Regions from separate parts of the Homo sapiens genome. Here region 1 is linked to region 2. Evidence: fine-mapped expression QTL. A gene starts in region 2. The other region holds a variant in brackets. All regions are shown on one strand. Distances are between the middles of the regions.

The links. PIP is the estimated chance that this variant, and not a neighbour inherited with it, causes the effect.
Region 1: its variant is fine-mapped to the expression of GNRH1 in tibial nerve (GTEx, PIP 0.98).

What each region holds. Positions count from the first base shown.
Region 1 is chr8:25,381,752-25,384,674 of GRCh38, reverse strand. DOCK5 (dedicator of cytokinesis 5) reads right to left here. Exons shown (of 52, transcript NM_024940.8): 40 at 1,897-2,001. Among named protein-coding and RNA genes, the nearest start is that of MIR6876, 38 kb to the right of the region's middle. The variant AAG/G (reference allele first, on the strand shown) is at 1,702.
Region 2 is chr8:25,422,815-25,425,737 of GRCh38, reverse strand. It overlaps GNRH1 (gonadotropin releasing hormone 1), which reads left to right and starts at 1,477. Exons shown (of 4, transcript NM_001083111.2): 1 at 1,477-1,537; 2 at 2,407-2,548. The coding sequence starts at 2,408.

The DNA.
Region 1 (2,923 bases), 41 kb after region 2:
CAGCCTGGCCAACATGGTGAAACCCCATCTCTACTAAAATACAAAAAATTAGCTGGGCCTGGTCGTGCACACCTGTAATCCCTGCTACTTGGGAGGCTGAGGCACGAGAATCGCTTCAACCCAGAAGACGGAGGTTGCAGTGAGCCGAGATTCCACCACTGCACTTCATCCTGGGTGACAGAGCGAGACACTGTCTCAAAAAAAAAAAAAATAAATAAATAAATAAATAAATAAATAAATAAAATAATAATATTAAGACATAATCTACATACAGTAAAATGGACCCCTTTTAGTGTAAAATTCTGTGAGTTTTGACAAACATAACCAGGACCACAATCAAGATACAGAACAGTTTCACTGCCACCAAAAATTTCCCCAGGCCCTTCTGCAGCCAACCTCCCCCTGGCCAGCAACCACTGATCTACTTTCTGTCCTGATAGGAAGCGTTGCCTAGGCAAGAATTTCGTATAAATAAAACCACAGAGTACGCAGCCTTTTAAGTGTAACTTCTTTTACCTAGCAAGCTGCATGTGGGTGGGAATCATGCCCGCAGTTGTGTGTATCAGGAGCTGACTGCCTTTGGCTGCTGCAGTATTCTGTTGTGTGGATACACTGAAGTTTGTTTATCCCATCACCAGTTCAGGGACACGTGGATTGGATCCTGTCTTTGGTGACTATGATTAAAGCTGCTATAAATATTCCTGTACATTTTTTGTAAAAGGGTAAGTTTCTATTTCACTTGGGTAAATACTTCCTGGTTACAGATTCTTATAGCACAGGGTATCTTTCTTGGTTATAGTTTATTTATTTATTTATTTTTGAGATGGAGTCTCGCTCTGTCACCTAGGATGGAGTGCAGTGGTGTGATCTCGGCTCAATGCAACCTCCACCTCCTGGGTTCAAGCAATTCCCCTGCCTCAGCCTCCTGAGTAGCTGAGATTACAGGCATGCACCACCACGCCCAGCTAATTTTTGTACTTTTAGTAGGGACAGCGTTTCAGCATGTTGGCCACACTGGTCTCGAACCCCTGACGTCAAGTGATCTGCCTGCCTCAGCCTCCCAAAGCGCTGGGATTACAGGCATGAGCCACTGCGTCCGACATGCAGATTAAATTTTACATTCATGTGTGATTAAAATCTCCCCTCATGAGTTTAGGTTGTAAAATCCATGAGAGTAGGGACTATGTTTGACTGTAATCAGCAAGATCTTTCTAATGCCTTCCCTATGCCTGGCACACAGTAGATGTTCAATAAATATTTACTGACTGAATGAATAAACTGTCTCATTAGGCACTGTTAGGAATGTAAATTGCTTGCTTTATCGCTTGTTTTCAAATTAGGAGAAAGCAGATGGATAATAAATGTTTAAGCAAAGCTCAGCTCTAAAAGAAACTTTTCGTAAGAGATAAGAATTTTTATTTATTAAACTATAAATTGAATATCGCATTATACACAATTTTGAGATGGAAGAAAAATACCATCCTTGTCATTATTATTATAATAAAATGTTTTATTTTGGGATACTCCTGCAGTCTGGTTCTTGGGATACCTATTTTCAAATTAGCTCTGGCTAGAAACATGGTAAACAACGAAATACATCAGTCCACACTTTTCCCTGGCGTGACCCGTAGCAGCTGACCAGTGCGGGGGATGGTTCTGTTTTTCCCTTTTTCACTGCACCTGGGAAAAGTCATTTCACAA[AAG/G]ACCTGCAGAACACCACGGGTGTCCGGGGGTGTGGGGTGAAGAGGCCGGCTGCTCAGGAAGTGGTTTCCCTCCCCTACCTCCCACAGCGAGAACACGGGTCGGCAGCTGCTAACACCCTGTTGCCCATCTGGAAAAGAAATGAGTCTCTTCCCTCCTCCTAATGGCCTGGGAGACCACCATCAGGTTTCTTACCCGTAGGAAAGAAGGAAAGCCCTGTCCATAGTATCCAACAGCAAAGTATTCAGGCTGAGGCCTCATTGCCTTAATGATGTTCTCATAAAATGAGGCCCTTTTTTTCTGGAAAACAAAACAAGACATTCCAAGGGGAGGTTATAAGTACACAGTTGGGGGAAAAAAAAAGTCAGACTTTGTTTTGTTGTTTCCCACGTAACCCAGAGCAATGAAAGGTCTTTGGAAAACACCCTATGGGCAGAAAAGGGTTATCCTATTCTCGGATCACAGGTTTTGGACCTGGGCTCCATGAATGGACGTTGGAAGGCTGTGACTCCCTGAGGGTGTATGCTGAAGTGTGTGCACGTTGGAATTCTTCTGCGTAACGGGGCAGTGCACAACTTTCAGCAGTTTCTCAAAGTGGGCTCAGGGACTACAAAAGGTTAAAAAGTGCATTCTGAGATTCACAGAAGGCGGCTGCACTTAACCAGACACCCATGGGAGAAGATAAAGAACCTTCCAAGGCCAGGCGCAGTGGCTCACGCCTATAATCCTTGCACATTGGGAGGCAGAGGTGGGAGGATTGCTTGAGGCTAGGAGTTTGAGACCAGCCTGGGCAACATAGTGAGACTCCATCTCTACAAAAAATTAAAAAATTAGCCAGCAGCTGAGGCAGGAAGATGTCTTGAGCCCAGGAGTTCAAGGTTGCAGTGGGCTATGACTGCACCACTGCACTCCAGCCTGGGTGACAGAGTGAGACCCTGTTTTGAAAAAATAATAATAAAATAAAGAACATTTTTAAAAAGAAGGACTGTGTAGTTCATGCAGGTGGTCTGGATGAAAGTGTCTGGTAAATTATAAGTGCCCAGAAGGTGGTGGTGATGTTCGGTTTTTCAGTATCTGCTACCATCTTTATCTTTAATTCTTCACAAGATGAGGGGCTTTCCAGCTTTGGCTCACAAGGTCAGCCTTAAAGAAAGCAAAATAGCCAGCCAGACGTGGACAGCTTTGAGCAATGACCTGAGCCCCCTCCCCTACAATGGTTAGC
Region 2 (2,923 bases):
TCTCTATCCTATCATGAGGACTGGACAGCCTCCACAGAGATGGCTGGACAAAGCAAGGGAATTTACTTAGGTAAGACACCATTTCTCTTTACTCTGAAATCCCTGCAAATGTAGTTATTCCAGAGGAGACTGTGCAATGACTGATGGGTTTAGCATCCTACATGAGGGGAAATTGCCATTCCCAGCTGTAAAATGAACAAATATCCAGTTATTTTTTTTAGCCATCTTACAGCTTAGCTAATATAACAGGATTTACAGCCAATTATACATGAAAGTTTAATTCTGTGTCAGATAAAGCATATCTTTGATGCAGAAATAGAGGCAGCATTAGGCCTTACCTGGTTAAAAGCTTTTTGCTTTCTATTCATTCATTCGTTCATTCATTCATTCAAACCTATACTTACTGAATGCTCACTAAATGCCGGGGGTTTATTAAGAGAGATTTAAATAAGATGGGATCTTTGACTATTACAGGTTTCAGCCTAGGGGTAAATTAGGGGAAGACAACCATGTATTCAAATAAATGTAATTAAGAGTAATGGTTGTGTGTGTATTTTACATGCTTGTCCTGTGTAAATAACACGTCCACGGTTGCACCTCTGGGGTGGAACATCTATAAAATTTAGATAATGATACCCACTTTGCATGGCTATTGTAATGAATGCTCTTATACATTTGCTATTTATTAAATAACTATAATTTCTCATCTTTCTGTTCCCACTGCCCTTAAGAGTGATTTGCATATTTAACTCAATAAGCATCTACTGAAATGAGTTGATCTGTTGATGTAAGTCTGCTCAATATGGTCTTGCTCTCAGAATATGTTTCTTGCCTTTTTGATGCTTTAGAAGGCTTTCAAGGTAAGTCAAGCAGGGAACCTGGTGGGTAGATGAGGGAATTTTCAAACACACAACTGTCTGATTTAGGATCCTACATGGACTTGGTATATAGTGTCACTTACTTGTAAATCAGATTTTTAAAATTGGAAGCAACTCTGTGATCATCTAGTCCATCTAGTCTACACCCTTCCTTTTACAAATGAAGAATCCAAGAGCCAGAAGCTCCCAGACATCCTGACTCAATGTCCTATATTTGTTGTATAGCCTCCTTTGTGGAAGTTATGTATGCATTTGACTTCACTTAATCTAAGACATCTATTTTCCTTGAACTCTTGATAGGTCTGCTGGTTTCCTCAAGGGAATCCAATCTAGCTGGATTTTAATCTCTTTGAATTGTGTCCTCAGCTATAAAAGTTTTAGCTGAGGTTTTAATGGCTGCACTTAAGTAAATCTAACAGATATACCAGGGGGTGTTCCAATTACATACACCATTAAAGGGCTTTATGTGAGGATTTTTAAAAATTACCATTAAAAAAAAAAAAGCATAGTCCATTTGCAGTATAATTTACCAGCAGGAAAGATTTCAATGTCCTGGAAAAATTCCCTATAAAAAGGAAGATAGGAAAACAGAAAAGTCACAGTACTCAACCTACTTCAAGGGAAGATTGGGATCTTTTTGGCTCTCTGCCTCTAAACAGGTAAAAGGCTTTGTATTATTTCTAGCACGAGTTTTTCTTCTTTAGATTGCATGCTATTGTATGTCTACAGGGCATTTGACAGCCCAAGGGCTAAATCCAGGTGTGACGGTATCTAATGATGTCCTGTCCTTCACTGTCCTTGCCATCACCAGCCACAGAGATCCAGGCTTTGGGGACTCCCACAGCTTATCGACCAGTGTTTGATTTAGTTTTTAGCCTCTTTCCCATCAAATGAAAATTAACTTGGAGACACATTTCATTAGAAAATTAGAGGCCCCCTTGGCTAGGAAGGCATCTGGTCTGGGACTAACTACTTTGAACAGTGTTGAGTCCTCTCTCCCACAGATGGTTCAGCCAGCAGTAATGCTAGGAAGACTGAAGGATAAATAGAAAAATGTCATTAGTACCATGGGGTAGCCATGTAATGTCAAGCAATTTTATATTAGCCAGAGATTCCTAGTAGGAGCTACTTTTCTTAACAGATGACTCAGTTCTCTTTATCTCAGGAATGAAAGAGTTGAAGACCAATCCACAACAGGGGAAATGTTAAGGCAAAATGATGAACTTGATAAGGGATGAATTATGGGGTTTGGATAACCAAACAATAAAAATAAAAGTATAGACTATTTTAGTACTAAAAAGGTCCTGAACATGTGAGCTTAAGTACTCATTTTGTCCCCAGTGGCTAAGAAACTAAAGGCAAGCCAGCAAGTGTCTCTGAGTTTCAGTGTCTGTATGTAAAAACTGACTCTGACTTCCATCTTCTGCAGGGTTAGTGATACAGATGCTAGCTTTTTCACTAAAGAGGTCTTTTAGTTTATACTCAACCTTGTCTGGATCTAATTTGATTGTGCATTCATGTGCCTTAGAATGAAGCCAATTCAAAAACTCCTAGCTGGCCTTATTCTACTGACTTGGTGCGTGGAAGGCTGCTCCAGCCAGCACTGGTCCTATGGACTGCGCCCTGGAGGAAAGAGAGATGCCGAAAATTTGATTGATTCTTTCCAAGAGGTAAGTTTCTCTCAGCTTCAAAATAAGACATAGTGATTTTATTCAATTTAACTATATTAAACATTCAGGATAGCCCCAATGTCAATATTCTATGATGTTGTACCCTAGATGCTCCAGGTGAGATAAGGCACTTACAAAGTAGAAGTCCCATTCCTACTTTCAGTTCACACAGGGACTAAACAAAGAGCTGGAAAAATTCCAAAAGAATATATTAATAGCAACAAGTGTGAGACAGCACGTCATACTCTGAGTGTATGGGATTGCTAAAGGAATTAGAAACAATGGGATAGGGTCAAGGTCTGTATCAGAAGATGATTCTTTGGGATTTGGAAAAAACGTTAGAACTTCGTTTTTTTTTTCCTCATTTCATCTTTT